Homo sapiens: one gene and its partners. The protein of the gene in region 3 interacts with the protein of the main gene of each other region in a pairwise test. Each region holds a gene or a part of one and is shown on either strand. Other genes may lie near its edges.

Evidence for each region. Proteins that work in one complex are often made in the same cells at the same time.
Region 1: the proteins of RASSF3 (region 3) and TFRC interact in binary tests that used the Homo sapiens proteins (3 or more experiments, as listed by UniProt).
Region 2: the proteins of RASSF3 (region 3) and FAM110A interact in binary tests that used the Homo sapiens proteins (3 or more experiments, as listed by UniProt).

Annotation. Positions count from the first base shown.
Region 1 is NC_000003.12:196,058,084-196,065,109, forward strand, and holds part of TFRC (transferrin receptor protein 1), read right to left. Parts: intron 6,346-7,026; coding exon 6,226-6,345; intron 4,857-6,225; coding exon 4,771-4,856; intron 4,563-4,770; coding exon 4,499-4,562; intron 2,165-4,498; coding exon 2,097-2,164; intron 550-2,096; coding exon 491-549; intron 283-490; coding exon 201-282; intron 1-200. UniProt on the Homo sapiens protein: Cellular uptake of iron occurs via receptor-mediated endocytosis of ligand-occupied transferrin receptor into specialized endosomes. Endosomal acidification leads to iron release.
Region 2 is NC_000020.11:829,123-836,721, reverse strand, and holds the start of FAM110A (protein FAM110A), read right to left. Parts: upstream 3,008-7,599; 5' UTR 2,771-3,007; intron 670-2,770; exon of another isoform or gene 1-669.
Region 3 is NC_000012.12:64,613,478-64,620,503, reverse strand, and holds part of RASSF3 (ras association domain-containing protein 3), read right to left. Parts: intron 1-7,026.

The DNA of each region.
Region 1 (7,026 bases), on a different chromosome or scaffold from region 3:
GGTAGCCAAGAATAATTACCTCAAAGTAATTTTGTAATCCTCGTCATTTGTCCTTAAAAACTTGTTTTCCTTTACTCCTCTGAATATGTACATAGTTGACTATAGCACAGGCATTCCCATTGCAATGCCCTATTCCCAAATACAGATCACTTCCTTTTAGAGAGCCTCTCTCCATTTGTCATTTAAATGAACAGACTTACCTCGCAAAAACAGAAAGAAACTGCTGGGATTCCAGAATATGCAAGGAAAGGGAAAGCAGCATTGTCTAAAGTGAGTTTCTCACTGCAAAGACAAAGAATGTGTCTTTAGAAAGTGTTTTAAAGAATAGACTGTTCTATCGTGCTAGTCCCCCCATCCAAAATAAATTCTTTAGCTGAATATCTTTAGGTGTAAGTAAGTTCAATGCAAGGACAGATTTAGATTCTACCTAATGTAGTAGGTAGAATCTCTGCTTTTCTATTAGTTTGTTCATTCACTTTTCTCAACTTACACTTTGCTGGCCCAGTTGCTGTCCTGATATAGAAATTGCCCAGTAACCGGATGCTTCACCTGTAAGATAAGAAATTATCATTAAAACTAACCTTTTGGAACTTATTTATTCAGGCTAGTCACTAACATGTTACTCTATAACAATTTTTAAATAAAAAACTTGTATTATATCTTCTTGAAAAGAAATTATTTATGATAGTTAAAACAATCTCAACTTTAAGTTATTACTAACTAGGCTCATGTTGTCAGTTCCTTTAGTTATGGTGAGGAAAAAATGTTTTCTTCTTAATTAACATTTTAAAAGTGGGCCTAGGCCGGGTGGGGTAGTTCACAACTGCAATCCCAACACTTTGGGAGGCCGAGCTGGGAGGATCACTTGAGCCCAGAAGTTTGAGACTAGCCTGGGCAACACAGCAAGACTTTATCTCTTAAAAAAAAAAAAGGAAAAAAAAATGAATAAAAGCTGGGCGCGGTGGCTCACACCTGTAATCCCAGCATTTTGGGAGGCCAAGGTCAAGAGATCATGAGGTCAAGGGATTGAGACCATCCTGGCCAACATGGTGAAACCCCGTCTCTACTAAAAATACAAAAATTAGCCAGGTGTGGTGGTGTGCACCTGTAGTCCCAGCTCCTCAGGAGGCTGAGGCAGGAGAATCGCTTGAACCCAGGAGGTGGAGGCTGCAGTGAGCCAAGATCGCACCATTGCACTCCAGCCTGAGTGCTGGAGGAAGACAGAGGAAGACTCCATCTCAAAAACAAACAAACAAACAAACAAAACCATGGTGGCTTACCCACAATTGTAAAAGCCCTCTCTGGGCTTCACACTATGCCTATCTTGTTTCTGGTTTCTTCCTTCTAGTGCATCTTATGCCACCAACCTAACTGGCAAATTCATGATCACCTTGCTTGAGATCCTATAATCCCTAGTATCTCTTGGATCAAGGCCAATGTCTGCTATCTGACCTGTTTCTAACTTTACTCACTCCAATATACAGCCTCTAATCCCATTAGGCAAATATTTTCTTTTTTATTTATTTATTTATTTTTTTTTTAATTATACTTTAAATTTTAGGGTACATGTGCACATTGTGCAGGTTAGTTACATATGTATACATGTGCCATGCTGGTGCACTGCACCCACTAACTCGTCATCTAGCGTTAGGTATATCTCCCAATGCTATCCCTCTCCCCTCCCCCCACCCCACATAGGCAAATATTTTCTTTCACATGCTCTCCCTCATTCAAAACTATGGTAATTGTTTATTCAATGAATATTTCCTCCGGCCTTCTCAAAGTATAGTTCAAGTTGATTTAAGCCTTCCTTAGCATTGTGACTCTATAGACAATCCCCTGTGGGCCCCTGCACTACAGCTTAGGCCTCATGGCATTTTGTTATATATTCCTAAATAAACAACATATTCTTTAAGATTGGAGCCCTCATCTCATATGGTTCAATAGGCAAGTATCCCTTAAATAACGCTGCTATAAAATTTATTCTCAATTCCTATTTTTTGTTACTGACTACGGTTTACATATCAGTGTTTTTTATCTCAGGTTGATTCAACAAAAATTAAGTCATACATTTTTGTAATGAGGTATATACTCACATTTTGCATTGTTTTCTCAATAAGCGTATACAACAGTGGGCTGGCAGAAACCTTGAAGTTGCTGGTACCTGAAAATAAATTGTTTTATCATTGCCCCTTCTCCATTCCGATAATTTTCACACTGCTACTTCTACAACTATAAGTACTTGACAAATAAGACAGTAATCTAGATCAGTGGCCCTGTGCAACAACTATCCCATTCATCAAGTAAACAAAAGTAATTTTGGTATCAAGCTCTTTAGCAACTAAGCTAACTTCACTCAAGTGGGCTCGTACTACTCCTTGAGTTTGCATACTTTAATCCAAGTCACCTTTTTTAAAAATATCAGAGCAGTTAGGCCGGGCACGGTGGCTCACGCCTGTAATCCCAGGACTTTGGGAGGCCCAGACGGGTGGATCACAAGGTCAGGAGATCGAGACCATCTTGGCTGGCACAGTGAAACCCCGTCTCTACTAAAAATACAAAAAATTAGCCGGGTGTGGTGGCGGGCACCTGTAGTCCCAGCTACTCGGGAGGCTGAGGCAGGAGAATGGCATGAACCCGGGAGGCGGAGCTTGCAGTGAGCTGGGATGGCGCCACTGCACTCCAGCCTGGGTGACAAAGCGAGACTCCATCTCAAAAAAAAAAAAAAAAAAAAAAAAAAAAATCAGACCAGTTTTAGGTTCAGCAGCAAAATTAAGAGAAAGGTACCTAGAGGTCCCATAAATCCACTGCCCCCACACATGTGCAGCCTCCCCCATTAGCAATTTCATGTTTAACTTTCTGGTTCACCCAGGTTAGAGCTATACATAGTATGCTTGCTATACTCAGCACATTCTGCGGCAAACATACAACAGGGAAATAACTAACCTAGAGAGGTTTAATTGTAACTCTTTCCTTTTTTCCCCCATGTAGACATTTCACTATTCTCAGCTCATCAGCTACATCTGCACTTTCTTTTTTACCCCATTCCTGTTGAATGTACAGCTGCACTTTAAATAACATTCAAACCCTTTTGTCAATTTTCTGCTGCCAGTGAACATTCAAACTCTTCTAGAAGTTTCATTATCCAATATTTCTATCAGTGATGCCACAACGTAACAGGATGTGAATTACTCTCTAAGTACCATTCTATATGGCATAGTTTAGTTTCTTCTCACCTCAATATAGTCCAGACTTATGGTCCTAAAACTTTAGTCCATCAGAATTACCTGTAGTGCTTGTTAAAGTTTTTTGTTTCTTTGTTTGGGTTTTTTTGCTTCAGGATACTTTGTCCTTAAGAAAATAATAGGTTTTTATTCCCCAAGGGTTGCCAAAAAAAAAGCCCAGTTTTTTTGTTTGTTTTTTTGAGATGGAGTCTCGCTCTGTCGCCCAGGCTGGAGGGCAATGGCGCCATCTTGGCTCACTGCAACCTCTGCCTCCCGGGTTCAAGTGATTCTCCTACCTCAGCCTCCTGAGTAGCTGGGATTACAGGTACTCGCCACCACACCCGGCTAATTTTGGTATTTTTAGTAGAGACGGGGTTTCACCATGTTGGCCAGGCTGGTCTCGAACTCCTGACCTCAGGTGATCCGCCTGCCTTGGCCTCCCAAGTGCTGGGATTACAGGCGTGCACCACTGCGCCCAGCCCAAAAAGCCCAGTTTTTAGACCAACACTCCCATTTCTGACTCAAAGGTCTGGGGTAGACATGACAGTTTGCATTCGTAACAGTTCCTAATGCTACTCATCTGGGGGCCACACTGAGAACTACCCACTGTTCTAGACAAGCAATTGTGCTCACTGTGTAACTTGACAGACTATTTAAAGGAAGGTTAAGATACAGGCTGAGGGCAATGGCTCATGCCTGTAACCGCAGCATTTTGGGCAGCTGACATAGAATGCTTGAACTCAGGAGTTTGACACCAGCCTGGGCAACATGGCAAAACCCCATCTCTACAAAAAAAATTAGCCAGGTGGCTGAAGTGGGAGGATCACCTGAGCCCAGGAGGTCAAGGCTGCAGTGAGCCAAGATTGTGCCACTGCACTCTAGCCTGGGCAATACAGTGAGACCCTGTCTCAAAAAAAAAAAAAAGCTTTCTTCCACTTCAAAGTAGTTTATCTGGCCAGGCACAGTGGCCCACATCTGTAATCCCAGGCCGAGGCAGGCAGATCGCCTGAGGTCAGGAGTTCGAGACCATCCTGGCCAACATAGTGAAGCCCTGTCTCTACTAAAAATACAAAAAATTAGCTGGGTGTGGTAGTGAGCACCTGTAATCCCAGCTACTCAGGAGGCTAAGGCAGGAGAATCGCTTGAATCTGGGAGACAGAGGTTGCAGTGAGCCGAGATCGTGCCATTGCACTCCAGCCTGGGCGACAAGAGCAAAACTCCATCTCAAAAAAGTTTACCTGAATTCATACACAGCTAATGAAAGGGATACTTACCAAGAACCGCTTTATCCAGATTAATATAAGTGAAAGCCTTTAAATGCAGGGACGAAAGGTATCCCTAGAAGAGAAGGGAAAACACTAATAAGTATAAATCTGTTTATTTATCACATACAGTAGCATTAGGGATTCATTTTCAATTCTGGACTCTACTGAGACTAAACGCAAAGGCAAAAGTGGTAAAATCAAACCTATAAAAACATCACTTCTGGACAACAGCCTAAGCCCACAAGCTCGTGTCCAATATGGGAAGGGATGATAAAGAATACCTCTAGCCATTCAGTGGCACCAACCGATCCAAAGTCTCCAGCACTCCAACTGGCAAAGATAATGCTTCTGCTGGGCTGAAACCCATCTGAAAGAGAAAAAAGTTAGCTTTACCTGAGGAAAGGTTATACACAGACAAGGATGGAAGGTATCCCACTTAAGATGAATCAGAAGGTCTAATTCCAAGATAGCAGATTCCAAAATCTTTTTTTTCTGAGCCAAAAAAGAAAAAAAAAACTAACAAAATCTTTTTTTGAGACCCCAGGTAAAAGAATAAAAGAATAGGAATAATTTTTTTTAAAGTAACCTACAAAGAGCAAGATAGGAGATCTGCAAATAAGATTTTGAGTACATAGCAGGGGCCAGTAGTCACCCTTTCACAATTTCATTCTTGGAGTTCCTTAACTTCTGGACCCAGAGATCATTGAAAACAGTGTAAGCATGATGATGCACATCTTGAGAAAAATCTTCAGAGGTAAATCCAAACATTGGATTTTTAAAAAAATAATTCTAAAATAAAATAAAAATTCACAAATTTAAGTTACAAGAAGAGTTTGCAGAGAAACTATATTTGTGACAGCACCTTTTGAGGTTACATGTATCACACTGCCCTCCATCCCTCCCACTTCCCTCACTGTATCTTTTTCTCCATTAATGTACTCTGTATTAAAGTTAAGCATTGCAGTTTGCCCTAAGACCCAAAGATTCAAGAATGTGACGTGATTTTGAATGTGTGGGTGGGTAGGAGTGTGAAAGAGTGGAAAGTAGGACAGAAAGGCTCAAAAATAAACAAAAGAGGCAGGGCACGGTGGCTCACTAGCAGCATTTTGGGAGGCTGAGGCGGGTGAATCACTTGAGGTCAGGAGACTAGCCTGGCCAACATGGCGAAACCCTGTCTCTAGTAAAAATACAAAAATTGGCCGGGTGTGGTTGTGGGTGCCTGTAATCCCAGCTACTCAGGAGGCTGAGGCAGGAGAATTGCTTGAAGTCGGGAGGCAGAGGTTGCAGTGAGCTAAGTGAGATCACACCACTGCACTCCAGCCTGGGCAACAGAGTGAAACTCTGTCTCAAAAAATGAATAAATGAATAAACAGAACAAAATTTCAATAGCTGTTAGGCCTCAGTACATGAGTAGAGAGGTATGCTACTGCTTTCAAATAGATTGCTTAGGGACTATGATCCACCTTATCACTCTGGATCCACCACACTAAGCACTAGGGCTCAGTAACTCCACTGTCTCAAAGAAACTGGTGATTTCTAGCACAGTTAAGACACTTTATGGAAAGCTGTTTCAAAGGAAAAGGCAGCTACAACAAAAGACAATCTGCCTTGTATTTAAGAACTAGAGTCTAGCATGAGAACCACAGGAATGCAGGCAAAGTGAGCAAAGCACAGTATAACATCTAGAACTGTATGCAGTGCACCAATATTCAAAAGAATCAAAATTTGTACTCTACCTTTTAAGACCATATCTGAGAACATCTGGGCAAGTTTCAATAGGAGAGCTGTGCCTACACCGGATTTTGCAGCTCCAGGGCCCCATGCATCTCTCTGGGCCCCAACTACAACATAGTGATCTTTAAAAAAGAAAAAAGAGGAAGAAAGAACTTATATAATCAGCTTCTAAACTTTTCTAGAATTAGCACATCAGTAGAAAGGTAAAAGCACAGTATATGTATTAAGGATAAAAGAGCCTTACTTCAAATCTGACTAAAAACTCTGGGAATTAAAAATTCACATGAGAATATTAATTTTACCTTACTAGTAGAGCTACTTTTTTCCTACACTACTAATTAAATTTACTGACTACTTAAGTCCAAGGACTTATTTCTTAGTAAGTGTTGGCTGTTTGATTGCATTTAAAGTTAACTCCAGGGACTGGCAAACTACAGCCCGCATGCCCATTCACTACGCACAGTCTGTGCCTGTTTTCTTGCTCCCACAGAGTTGAACAGCTAAAAGAGAGACTGTATAGCCTGGCAAAAGGTTTATTATCTGCCCCCTTAAGAAATTTGCTTATCACTGGTCTAGTCAATAACTTAGAATAGATTTTCTAGTCATAATGGTCAATTTTTAACAAGAATTTCCTAGGGCCTTATTACCTCCCAATAAAACTGACACATAGGCTGGGCGCGGTGGCTCATGCCTGTAATCCCAGCACTTTGGGAGGCTGAGGGAGGCAGATCACCTGAGGTCAGGAGCTCTGACCTCATGGAGCCTGACCAACATGGAGAAACCCTGTCTCTACTAAAAATACA
Region 2 (7,599 bases), on a different chromosome or scaffold from region 3:
GAGTGTATACCCAAAACAATTAAAAACAGGAACTCAAACAGATATTTGTACATTCATGCTCAAAGCAGCATTAGTCACAACAGCCAAAAGCAATCCAAGTGTCCATCAAGGAATGAATGGATAAACAGAATGTGGCATATACATAGAATATTAGAATAGATTATTCCGCCATAAAAAAGAAAATTCTAACACATACAACAACATGGGTGAAACTTAAAGGCATTATGCTAAGTGAAATAAGCCAGACACAACAAGACAAATACTGTTATGATTCCATTTATAATACCTAGAGGTACCCAAAGTAGTCAAATTCACTCAAACAGAAAGTAGAATGGTGATTGCCAGGCACTGGGGGGAGAGGCAATGGGGAATGTACTTAATGCCACTGAACTGTATACTTAAAAGTGGTTACAATGGTAAATTTTATTTTATATACATTTTAATTCATTCACTGCCCCACCCCACCCCCCCCCCCAAAAAATGTAAAATTTAGAGCCAGACTCTCTGGGTTCAAACTCCACCTCTAGGTTATCTTATGCAAATTATTAAACCTCTCTTGTGCTCAGTTTCCCCTCTGCAAGATGGAAATAAGAACAGCAGTAATTACCTTATATCACAGAGTTGAGGGAATTAAATGAGTTCATACTTGTAAAGTACTTAGAACATAGTAAATGCTCAAGAGGTGTTAGTGATTTTTATTCTTTGGTGAGGGGGTGGGAGGTGTGGTTTCCAAAGGTTATAATTTTCATGACATTCTACACCCAACCCGCCCCCTTCCTCCCACCTGCTTCTTTCTTTCCCTTCAGCAGAAGCCTGGCCTAGATTTGGGGAGGCCCTTGCCTGCCCCAGAGGAGATTGGGAAGGCTCCAGGCAGTGGCAAGGGGCCAGCCAGCAGGGCAGCCCCAGCTCAATTTCAGCCCAGCTGTCCAGGTCAGGGACACCCAGCTGGGCCACCTCCAGAGCCACACCAGGCCCTGAGCTATTTCTGGAGGCCTCCCAGACGCTGGTGCCCTGGCCTGCCCAGGAGTCAGCCTTGCTCAGGGTGGCCTTGCACTAACATTAGGAAGGGAGAAGGGAGTAGGCTGTGGAATGGGTGTGGATGTGGACATCTAGGCCCACTGATACCAAGTTGATCTTCTAGGCCTAGGTCTGCACTTGAGGTTGCAAAATGGGGATGAAGGATTTTGCAGTGAGGACAGAATGGAAGATAACACATGCAAGGTCTTGGGGAAGGGCCTGGCACGCAGGATTAGAAAGGGGAGGGGGAGGCAGATCCACAGCCAAGCCCACTTCCTATCCTAGACTGCCCTCTGCCCAGGCCTGAGTGCACCATCATGACTTCTTAGCTCAGCCCAGAGACTGAAGAAACTTACTCAATGTCACAGAGCAACTCAGGGACAGGGCAGTGGTTTCATGATTTATAAATATGCATATATATACACATATATACATATATACACACATACATATATATACATATATGTGTGTGTGTATATATGTGTGTGTGTATATATATATATAGAGAGAGAGAGAGAGAGAGAGAGAGAGAGAGAGAGATGGGAGGACTGCACTTCATGAAGGCTGTGTGAGTTAACCTCCTGCCTGCAGAACACACAAATGGTCCATGAACGTTAGTTTCAGTCTTGATTACTGAGGTTTTGGGCATCCCTAAATTTTGCACTGGCTCAATTGCCTCAGCCCCTGCCTTGCATCACAGTGGGAGAAGATGATACATTTGCTAATAAGTAAAAAAACCAAAACATGCAAGAACCAGAGCAGGGCTTATGAAGTCAATAAATAATATTTGTTGAAAGAATAAAAGAAAGCCTTGTTTTCTTTCTGAGTCCTCGGAGATCCTGTCCCCCAAAGCCAGGGGCAGGCTCCAGAGGAGAGAGGATATGTAACTCCCTTATGAAGAGATTGAAGACTCTCAAAATGCATGATTCTGTGTGTCAAGGATTCTAAGATTGAAGCCAGAGGGACTAGGAGCTAACCACTGCATTGTCTGACTGTGACTTCGAAAAGGGGCTTAACTTCTTAGAACCTCCGTTTCCCCACCTACAAAAGGAGACTGACAATAGCAACCTAGGGGGCAGGGGGTGTCCCCAGGAGACACAGCAGGGTCTGGCCTAGGTCAGCTGCTCCACCTGGGGGGATTCCGGCCCCACTCCCAATTCCAAAGTCTCTGGTGACTAGTGGCTTTGGTTTAGGGACTGGCTCTATTCCCTTCCCCAAACTGGGGATGATTCCCAAGAGGCCAGCAGCGGCTCTGGGGGCTGGAGAATCTGCTGCCCCTGCATCCAGCCCAGAAATGTCAGTCCCGTCCGATCCCCAAAGAGTGGTCCTCTGTCCCCGTAGACAGAAAGGCGCCAAATGAGCCGAGTCCAACCCCGGACTGCGGAGAAGGAAAGACAGACGCCCAAAGGGGGTATCCCGAGGACAGTGTGGGGCGCGGGGATATGTGATCCAGCCAGGGGTCTACAGGTCCCTGCCGATAAAACGCTGGGAAAATGACTACCAGTTGCCCGTCTGGGCCTCTCAAGGCAAGTCCAGATGTGACTAGACTAGGGGGCTGCGAGGTGGGGCAGAAAGACTTGAACTGGATTCTCCGCCAGAGCTCGCCGGGCCGGGACACTTGCCTCTCTGAGCCTCAGAGTCCTCATCTGTGAAATGACACGCAGGTACGACGCGGGGAGAAAGCAGACAGCAGACGCTCGGGGAACGGGGCCCCCAGACCCGGGGTCGCACCCGGACCCACCCGCGCCCTCACCTGGAGCCCGCGCTAGGCGTGTCCCGGCTCCTCTCGCGCAGGCTTTGGAGAGGCTGACAGCTCGGACCCGGGCCGGTAGTGGCCGCTCCCAACGACGCCCAGGAGGCCCCAGCCCCGCGTGGGCACCTTTGGGGTCCCCTTTGGAGCTGCCCTCCGCGGTCGAGCTGAGCGGGTGGCCCTCACTGTCGAAGGCCCCCACCGCAGGGAAAGTCCCTGGGGCGCCGTGGAAGGGGAAGTGAGCACGCCGCCCCCCTTCACACCAGAATGGTTCGCCCCGGACTTCCTGATTGGTTCCTCGCTTCCGTTCGAACGGCGCGCCGCCAGGGTTGCCAGGCGACCGCTTAGCTTCCCCCGCCCGAAGGAGAGGCGCTGCTCAGCAGCTCCGCCCGCTCCTCCCAGCCGGCCCCACCTTCTTCCTGCCGCCGCTTCAGCCCCGGCGCCTGGTTCTTTCCCTTCCTCCTCCTCCCTCCCGCGGCCAGCTGGGACTTCCTCTAGGACCCCAGCTGGAAGAGCTCCAGTTAGAGGGCCCTGGCTGGTTCCTAGTCCTGACTTTGACGCTAACTCCCTATGTGACCCGGTGCAAGCCCCTTCCTTTCTCTGTTCTCCTAACTGCATGATGATGAGTGAGTTAATTTTAAAATGTGCATACCCAGCAGTCCCGAAATTTACAAAGGAAATGACCAAAGATATGAGCAAAGATTAATATTGCTCAGCCTTATTCATCATAGCAAAATAATGGAAACAACTTCAATGCCTCTTGAAAGGGATTGGTTATATAATTCCATCCTGTGGAGGAGCTAACTTAATTGAGCTTTTTGCATGCCGGGTAGCTTTACAGAACAAGTCTTGTCAAGGCTTATGACATAACCCTCTAAAAGTACTTTTAATTATTAACACTTTATTTATTTCTTTATCTTTTTCTTTTCTTTTTTTTTTTTTTTTTTTGAGATGGAGTCTCACTCTGTCGCCCAGGCTGGAGTGCAGTGGCAGGATCTCAGCTCACAGCAGCCTCAATCTCCTGGGGTCAAGCAATCTTCCCACCTCAGCCTCCCAAGTAGCTGGGACTACAGGTGTGCACCACCACACCCGGTATTTTCTGTATTTTTTGTAGGGATGGGGTTTTGCCATGTTGCCCAGACTGATCTTAAACTCCTGAGCTCTAGCAATTCTACCAACTCAGCCTCCCAAAGTACTAGGATTACAGGCATGAGCCACGCCACCTAGCCTAATTTTTCCCACTTTCTGATGAGGAATATTATGCAGCCATTAAAAGTGAAGTAGCTACCAGGAGCAGTGGCTCACACCTGTAATCCCAGCACTTTGGGAGGCTGAGGCGACCAGATCACCTGAAGTCAGGAGTTCAAGACCAGCCTGGCCAACGTGGTGAAACCTCGTCTCTACTAAAAATACAAAAATTAGCCAGGCGTGGTGCCACATGCCTGTAATCCCAGCTACTCAGGAGGCTGAGGCAGGAGAATAGATTGAACCTGGGATGTGGGGGATGCAGTAAGCTGAGATCATGCCACTGCACCCCAACCTGGGCAAGAGATCATCTCAAAAAGATAAAAATAAAAGTGAAGTAGCTAGAAGATATTTAAAGATAGGGGGAAATGCTAAGTATTAAACATTGGTTTATTTATGTTTTTTAGAGACAGGGTCTAGCTCTGTTGCCCAGGGTGGAGTGCAGTGGTGCAATCATAGCTCACTGTAACCTAGGTTGAAGCAATCCTCACACCTCAGCCTCCAGAGTAACTAAGACTACAGGCCCGCATCACCATGTCAAGCTACGGGTCTCGCTATGTTGCCCCAGGCCAGTCTAGAACTCCTGGCCTCAAGTGATCCTCCTGCTTTGGCCTCCTGAATTTCTAGGATTACAGGCATAAGCCAATGCACCCCTCCCAAATTTTTTTGAAGTACAGTATGCTTCAAAACACTATGTACAGCATAAATATGTATTAAATACATATGTATATGTGTATAATCATCTATAATCACAGCAGTTAATTTCTTCTTTGTGTTTTTGTGAATTTTCCAAATTTCCAATACTTGAACATGTCAAAAAAGTATATTTTTAGGGGGATTAGAATGAATTAACTCTAAGGGCCTTTAAGGTGAGGAAATTTTATAGCAGTCAGTCTGAATTGCTCAATTTGGAACCAGCTTCTCTGTTTCATTCCAGCTGGTGTCTTTTATTCTTTGTTTGGATTGCCAATAATTGAGAACTTACTGCGTAAACCCCTGGGTGGGCAGGGGAGGGAGCTAATAATATATCAATAGCTAATAATGATTGTACACTCTGGCATGGACACCAACCAAATCAGAGCCAACCACTGTCATAAACAGGGAGTCTGCTGTATCCGTGAGGACCAGCTAAATATCAATCCTGGCCCTGTGCCCTCTGCTACATTGTGTTAGGGCTTTATACACATCATCTCATTGGACTTCATGACTATCTAAGGCGAGAGATCCTGCTATTATTCCCATTATATAGATGAGAAAACTAAGGTCGGTCTGGATCCAGAATGAATTCTCTGATCCACTCTGTTACATTCCCTTGTAAACATGTGAGAACTGTTTGGGAGTAACAGTGAGGTAAGGCAAGGGGGATCCTGTGATCCTATAAGACACAAGAGAAGATTGAGCAGGTAGCTTCAGCCTAGGGAGACTTCTTTTTTTTTTTTTTTTTTTTTTTTTGAGACAGAGTTTCACTCTTATCGCCCAGGCTGGAATGCAATGGCACGATCTCAGCTCCCTGCAACCTCTGCCTCCCAAGTTCAAGTGATTTTCCTGTCTTAGCCTCCTGAGTAGCTGGGATTACAGGTGCCCGCCACCATACCCGCTAATTTTTTGTATTTTTAGTAGAGACAGGGTTTCAGTATGTTGGTCAGGCTGGTCTTGAACTCCTGACCTCAGGCGATCCACCCACCTCGGCCTCCCAAAGTGCTGGGATTACAGGCGTGAGCCACCACGTCCAGCCCTAGGGAGACCTCTTTAAGAAAAAATTACAGATATGAAATTAAGTAATAAAGTGAAGATTTGGTTAGAAAGAGACAAGAAACCACAATAAGGTGGCTCATGCCTGTAATCCCACCACTTTGGGAGGTCGAGGTGGAAGGAGTGCCTGAGCCCAGGGGCTTCAGACCAGCCTGGGCAACAAAGCGAGATCCCCAGCTCTACAAAAAAATTTTAAAAAGAAATTAGCTGGCCAGGCATGGTGGCTCATACCTGTAATCCTAGCACTTTGGGAGGCCGAGGCTGGTGGATCACCTGAGCTCAGGAGTTTGAGACCAATCTAGACAACATGGCAGAACCTCATCTCTACTAAAAATACAAAAAATTAGCTGGACGTGGTAGTGGGCACCTGTAATCCCAGCTACTTGGGAGGCTCAGCCAGGAGAATCACTTGAATCTGGGAGGCAGAGGTTGCAGTGAGTCAAGATTGTGCCACTGCACTCCAAGCTGGACGACAGTGAGACTCCGTCTCAAAAAAAAAAAAAAAAAAGGAAAAAAGAAATTAGTCAGGCATGGTGGCACGTGCCTATAGTCCCAGCTACTCAGGAGGCTGAGAGGGAGGATTGCTTGAGACCAGGAGGTTGAGGCTGCAGTAAGCCATGATTTCACCACTGCATTCCAGCCTAGATGACAGAGCAAGACCTTGTCTCCAAAAAAAAAAAAAAAAAAAAGAGAAATTGCACAAACGTTACAAAACGCAGAAAAATAACATTCTTTTTATTAGCTGCCTGTCTCAAACACATCTGTAATACTTTCCATAAACTAGCTGCTGGCTCCGTGTATACATTCAAACCTCTCCTTCACAGTCTTGTGGAACTGAGTGCTGTAGGACCATTCATATATCTTGAGATATAACCTCTGATCCTGAATCTTGATGCCACGACAAGTTGAGTCAGCTCAGTATGCTCGGTATGGATATATTCCTGGAAGCCATTTCAATACCAGGTCAGTTAGTAATAATTTTTCACAAAAGTGACTGGAAACAATATAAATATATCCCACTAAACCCAAAGTAAATGTTAAGGTCCTTTTAGCAAGATGCCCAAACTGCTCACACCAACCCCAACATCATCTGATGCAAAGGGAAGTTGGAATGAAAGGAGATAGTGGTTTTAACAGAATGAGGTTAAGATGCCTTACATTGGTAAATTTTACAGAAGCACATGGCCATGTGAACACATCACTAGGGTGCTTCCCAGACCTCAACTTCCCTGTTATTAACCAGGAATGACAACAATGGTGTTGACCAAATTCTTCTCTGAGATATGTAACTTTAATCAGGGTTGGGAGATATTTGAGATACCTGGATAAAGGCCCTGCTCACTGACCCTTGCGTCTTCAAGTTTGCCTCTGCCATGCACAGCCGAGAGCTTAAAATTAGACAAAACAAAAACCGAGAGGCCCATTCCTAGATTGAGAAAGTGAGGCAGAGGGCAGAAGGAACTTGTCAGGATCCCAAATTAGGCCATGTAAAGAGAGATCATCTGGGCGCACTCAGATTCTAGAATTGTGGGCATCTTTATGTGCCAACAGCATATTGGTCTTCTATTTTCAGGACTATATTAAGCACCTGGTGCCAATTCAGAGTATTCAAGTCCTCCCAGTCCTTCTCCTCCCCCACCATGGGGAGTGGTGAGAGAGAAGAAAAAGGCGGATAAACTGTCATTAACTACACCCAGATCAGAGAGAACTGGGCGGTCTGTATGGCCTTATCCTGACCCAGCACATGAGCAATGATAACATCTCGCCTTGTTGACAGGCCTATGGCTGGTTCTGCGTGTGGGTTTTGCCTCCTTCAGAACGTTGACCTTAGCAGT
Region 3 (7,026 bases):
TAAAAACAGAATTACCATATGATTCTATAGCAACTGTTACTTATGGGTATATATCGCAAAAAGTTTTAAGAGGGGTCTTTAAGAGATATTTGTACACCCCTGTTCACAGCATCATTATTCACATGAGCCAAAAGGTGGAAGCAATCCTAATGTCTATGGAAGAATCAATGGATAAACAAAAAGTGATATATACATACAATGGATATATTATTCAGCCTTTAAAAGGAAGGAAATTCTGACACATACTCCAACATGAATAAATCTTGATGACATCAAGCTAAGTAAACTAAGCCAGTTACAAAAAAACAATTACTACACAAATTCACTTATCTAGACTAGTCAGACGAACCTATATACGCCCCCCATGAAGGCAGGTTTCAATCTGTTTCGTTCACCACCAAATCTCTAGCACTTAGTCTAGCATCATTGTGAATATTCAATACTTGAAAAATGAATTCAGAAAACTACACACACACACACACACACACAGTCAACCTGCACTAATTTCTTTTTTTTTTTTTTTTGATATAAAGTCTCACTCTGTTGCCCAAGCTGGAGTGCAGTGGCGCAATCTCGGCTCACCACAACCTCCACCTCCCAGGTTCAAGCGATTCTCCTGTCTCAGCCTACCGAGTAGCTGGGAGTACAGGCATGCACCACCATGCCTGCCTAATTTTTGTATTTTTAGTAGAGACGGGGTTTCACTATATTGGCCAGGTTAGTCTTGAACTCCCGACCTCGTGATCCGCCCGCCTTGGCCTCCCAATGTGCTGGGATTACAGGCGTGAGCCACCACGCCTGGCAACCTGCACTAATTTTAAGTGAACTCTTTGCTGACTATATTCTAAGTCCGTTAACTCCAAGATCTTCTAAATCCATCCTTCTGGTCTCCAATTCCCAAACTCACCCTTTTTCCTCCTCTAATTATCTCACCTTGTTTAGCATCTGGAAAAAGAACCAAGTGAGGCAATATATAATTAGTAAATTATTCTTAGCTGACTGAATCATGTAGCAGCAGTTAGCAATTACAGTCCACAAAATGCAAAATATTAAGCTTGCTCCTTTAATACTCTATGAAACATGAGCCCTCTTCTGTCCTTAAACTGAAGGCAGAGTTGCACCGAGAATGCCATTAGGTCAGTTTTATCTTATTGGCTCATGTGGAAAAAAAAAAGGGAAGTTCCCCACACAAAAGTTTCACAACCCCAAAATGCTGGTATGTGTGTCCCTGGATAGGCTGAGAAGAAACTATCCCCAACAGTAAAGGGCAAGTTCCCCTTCACAAAGAAAAATCTTCCCAACACACCAGGCTGGTACCCCCACATCCATCCATCTGCAGCCACCAAGACAATGGAGATTCAAACCTCTGGCAAGGGCTGCCAGCCCTGCTTCAGCAAACAGCATTGTTCAACAAAAATATCATGCGAGCCACATGCATAATTTTAAGTTTTCCATAGCCATGCTAAAAAATAAGTAACATTAAATTTACTTAACTCAAATATTATCGAATATTATCATTTCAACATGTAATTGCAATTTTTTAATTATCATATTTTACATTCTTTCTTTTTTTTTATTATTATACTTTAAGTTTTAGGGTACATTTCTAATCTTCAAAATCCAGTGTGTATTTTTCACAGCAATCTCAATCAGACTAGCCACGTTTCGATTGCTTAAAAACTACATGTAGCTAGTGACTACTGTATTGTACAGCACAGTTTTAGAATGGTCACTTCTATCTCAGAATATATTTTCTGATTTGTTACTTAAGTTTTTACATATATTTCAAATACTCATCATTTTTTATGGGTTCTGACATCCTTCCTAGAGCATTATCTGGCCCTCTCCATTTAAAAAAAACAAAAACAAAAACAAAAGGCCGGGCGTGGTGGCTCACGCCTGTAATCCCAGCACTTTGGGAGGCCAAGGAGGGCAGATCATGAGGTCAGGAGTTTGAGACCAGTCTGGCCAACATGGTATAACCCCGTCTCTACTTTAAAAATACAAAAATTAGCCGGGGATGGTGGCATGCCCCTGTAATCCCAGCTACTTGGGAGGCTGAGGCAGGAGAATTGCTTGAACCCAGGAGGTGGAGGTTGCAGTGAGCCGAGATCACGCCACTGCACTCCAGCCTGGGCAACAGATCAAGACTTGTCTCAAAAAAAATAAAAATAAAATTAAGCAAACAAAAGCTATTTGACAACACTACTGATAGCCAAACCAGAACTACCTGTTTAAACTATTAAGAAAAACCTGGAATACTCAGGAGGCTAAGGCAGGAGGATCATGTGGGCCCAGGAGTTCGAGGCTATAGGGCACTATTATCATGCCTGTGAATAACAATTGCATTTTAGCTTGGGCAACATAGCAAGATCCCATCTCTTTAAAAATGAAAAAAGAAAAGAAAAAAGAGACCTGGAAAATAAACCAAATTTGATTTGGTTAATTTTGGTTAACATTTTGGTGAATTAACCAGTTTGGTTAACGCTGGTTGAAGTTATTTAAAAAACATTTTCTAACCTTGAAGATGATTACGTTTCTGTTGGAAGACAGTCATCAATAAGGAAATGTGATTGTTTTACACAGGGACGTAAAACAGGAAGTGATACACTTCCACGTCAACATTCCCATCTAAACAGATGTATAGGGCCGGGCACGGTAGCTCATTCCTGTAATCCCAGCACTTTGGGAGGCCGAGGCGGGCAGATCACAAGGTCAGGAGTTCAAGACCAGCCTGGCCAATATGGTGAAACCCCATCCCTACTAAAAATATAAAAAATTAGCCCCATGTGGTGGCACGCACCTGTAATCCCAGCTACTGGGGAGGCTGAGGCAGGGGAATTGCTTGAACCCAGGAGGCAGAGGTTGCGGTGAGTGGAGATCGCATCATTGTACTCCAGCCTGGGTGACAGAGCAAGACTCCGTCTCAACCAATCAATCAATCAATGTATAGCTTTACCACACTACAAAATAGGTGTGTTCCTGAAAAACTACATTTCAAAGTTTCCTCAAATACACTAAAGGAGCAAGCTCTTTAGGGAAAAATTAGAGAGATATTTTCATTTGCCTATTGGGTAAGCTTTTTAAAAACATTGCCAAAAGAGGCCAGGGACTGTGTATTGTTCACCACCCTAACCCCAGAGGTTAGAACAGTATCTGGCACATAGGAGGCACACAATAAATTGTCAACTAAATATATTAATGAATAAATGATGAGTTTTCTTAAAACAAGGGGAAAGTATATAAAGTGAGTTATGCTTAACCAGTAATCACAGATATTACCAATATCATCCCATTTTAAATCACTACTACCTGTAAGATACTGTGAAGGCTTATGGTCTAGTTTGGAAAGGGGGAGACATTGTGTACATTTGTGTATAAAGGAAAACTAACAGTACCAAATACTGGGACATCCATCCAAAATGAGCAGGCTTTCATTTGTTCAAGCACCTTAAGTGCCAAGCATTTATATTATGTAGTAGGTAAAAAATGCTAGTCTCTGTCCTCATTAAACAAAATATAATGATAAATTATAATTTTTGCTATGAAGGGAAAGAACAGCGGGCTTTAAGACTTTTCTGAGTCGACATGTTAAGGAGAATGGAGGGCGGCAACTCCAGGCCATGGTTCTGAGATGGCGATGGGGCCTGAAAGGAATTAAAGAGAAGGCTAATATTGTTGGAGTCCTAAAAGCTCTTACATCACAGGGTGAACAATAAGCGGGGCCTTGTAATAGAGGTAATGCCTGCTTGCCATGAGAATAAAAACTTCCTACAAGGCAAATGTGTGTAGCTCTTCAAACAGAGGAAGATGCAAAGAGGCTAAGTTAGCCAAGACTTGTCATATAGAAGAGAAGCTCCTTTGCATGCATTTATCATATATCCTACTGTCTTTTCACCATCCCCTCTGAAGAGGGACTGCTAGCCAATGGCCTTTGGCCAAATTAGGAGTGAAATACACGTTTCAAACTGGGGCCTTTATTGAAAGACAGCTACTTATGCTTGGAGACTTGGGGGTGGAAAATGCGAGGGCTAATGCCCAGGGCTAAGAGTTGGTGATCAGGCCACACTAGAAAGTATTTGGTCAGACTCAGTTTTTTTTTCTCCCAGAAAAAGAATGTTAACCGTATGACATGCACTGACTGCCAAAGGAAGTCTAAAAAGAATAACCACATTATTGGATATTTTTAGCCTTTCTTTTCAAAAATGTTTTGTGTCACTGCTTTCCAAATAATTCCAAATCTTGTGAGTTGGCCAGAAGAAGAAATGGGATAAGGAGTATACTACTCAAATATGAGGCTTTATAGGACTGGAAACTTTTTCTTCTGAAATTCATTTAAAGGAATATGCCTTTGTGAATCTTGCTCACACAAACACAAAATTCCAATGGATTAATATCGTGTAAGAACAGAACATATCAGACATGCAGAAAAGATGTGTAAATCACCTTGCCCTAGGCAAAATGTCTGGTGAAAATGTTTATGCCCCATAATACGGGAATTAAAAATCAGCATTTAAAAAGCTAGTATAGGCCAGGAGTGGTGGCTCACACCTGTAATCCTAGCACTGTGGGAGGCCGAGGTGGGTGGATCACCTGAGGTCAGGAGTTTGAGACCAGTTTGCCCAACATGGTGAAAGCCCGTCTCTACTAAAAATACAAAAAATTAGCCAGGCACTGTGGCGGGAGCCTGTAATCCCAGCTACTCGGGAGGCTGAGGCAGGAGAATCATTTGAACCCAGGAGGCAGATGTTGCAGAGCCGAGATCACACCACTGCACTCCAGCCTGGGTGACAAAAGCGAAACTCCGTCTCAAAAAAAAAAAAAGAAAAAGGCTAGTAGAGTCAAAATACCTATTATGTCATAAACCACTATTCTTTTACCCCAGTGATCTAGCTCTAAACTTCTAATGGAAACACTAATAAAAGAGTGCAGCTCATTACTGTTGATTCTAGCAATAAGACACAACCAAATAATTGAGGCACAAAAATATTTGAATAAGAAAGAGAAAACCGAAAGGGTGAAGTTGAGGCCTGCTATGGGGAGTCTAATAGACTTACTTACTGAAGTAAAATTCTTCAGCGCAATTTTTTTTAAAGTGTGGGTTGTTCAGAAGACAATTTCACGTTTCTCAAGACTTCTTGACTACCCTACTTCTAAAGCAAAAATACTGTCTCATTTCCTTATTCCCATGAACTACCAAAGGCTCAGGAGGAGAGGTAGCTTAGCTAAGAGGTAAGACACACTCTGACAGATTATAACTTTAGACCATTTCTATTCTTTGGAAATCTGAATGTGTCCTGTATTTACAGGTAGTTTGATTTTGGTGGGAAATCAAGAAGGCAAATAATAAATTACACAACTGTCCACATTTTTGGTTTTGCTGAAAACAATGATTAGGTGGATCCTTTGAAACACAGCGAATCCACAAATACGTGAATCCACAAATACAAATTATAAACACTGTCATGACTATATGCAGGTCAGGGAGTTGAAATTTTAAGAAACAGCCAGGCGCGGTGGCTCATGCCTATAATCCCAGCACTTTGGGAGGCCAAGGAGGGCAGATCACTTAAGGTCAGAAGTTCAAGACCAGCCTGGCCAACATGGCAAAACCCCATCTAGACTAAAATACAAAAAAAAAAGCCAGGCCTGGCAGCGGGTGCCTGTAATCCCAACTACTCAGGAGGCTGAGGTATGAGAATCAATTGATCCTGGGAGATGGAGGTTGCAGTGAGCCAAGATCCTGCCACTGCACTCCAGTCTGGGTGACACAGTAAGAATCTATCTCAAAAAAAAAAAAAAAAGAAAAGAAAAGAAATTTTAAGAAACTCTTAAATTTTAGGTGTCCTTATTTGCAAAGGGAATATGGAGCCATAAAATTATTTTTATAGCTAAAAAGTAACAAAATAGAGAGTGTAATTTGAGTCTGAAAACCTGAGTTCCAGCCTTCTTGCTATCTAGGTGTGGGCCTTATACAATCACTAAATAATACCTCCCCCTTTCATTAAGTTAATGTTTCATACAGTTTTTGGGAGCACCATAAGATACAGTACATTTGAAAATGGTAAAGATCAGGGGCCAGGTGCGGTGGCTCACGCCTGTAATCCCAGCACTTTGGGAGGCCGAGGCGGGCAGATCACCTGAGGTCAGGAATTCAAGACCAGCCTGGCCAACATGGTGAGACCCCGTCTCTACTACAAAATTTAGCTGGATATGGTGGCAGGTGCCTGTGATCCCAGCTACTCGGGAGGCTGAGGCAGGAGAATCGTTTGCACGCGGGAGACGGAGGTTGCAGTGAGCCGAGATCACGCCATTGCACTCCAGCCTGGGCAACAAGAGTGAAACTCCATCTCAAAAAAAAAAAAAAAAAGAAATGGTAAAGACCCAGTTACTATCAAATCAGGAAAACATTCATTCATTCAGCTTGCATTCACTGAGCAACTACTGTATATCAGGTACTGATCGAGACCCTGCGGATACAATAAACATGACATTCAAACTGCCACAAAACGTCATATGTTCGTTCCCTTTATATCTTTTAGACAGTTTTGTTTTTGAGACAGGGTCTCGCTCTGTTGCCCAGGCTGGAGTGCAGTGGTGCGATCACAGCTCACTGCAACCTCTGCCTCCCGGCCTTAAGCAATGCTCCCACCTCAGTCTCCCGAGTAGCTGGGACTACAGGCGAGCACCACCATGCCTGACTAATTTTTGCATTTTTTTTGTAGAGACAGGGTTTCACCATGTTGTCCAGGCTGGTCTCAAACTCCTGGGCTCAAGCAATCCTCCCATCTCAGCCTCCCAAAGTGCTGGAATTACAGGCATGAGCTACCACACGTGGCCTAGACAGGTTTTTTAACCCTTTTCCATTTTTGTTGTTGTTCTTGTTGTTAAGAATGGGGTTTAAAGTAAGAAAAAAAATGAAAACATTTTCTTTATAAGGTTTTTGTTACTGTTGGGGATAGAAAGAAGTTGCACTATGTTCCCTTGCCTGGCAAGAGAAGAAAGAAATTTCCAGTCCACCCGCTC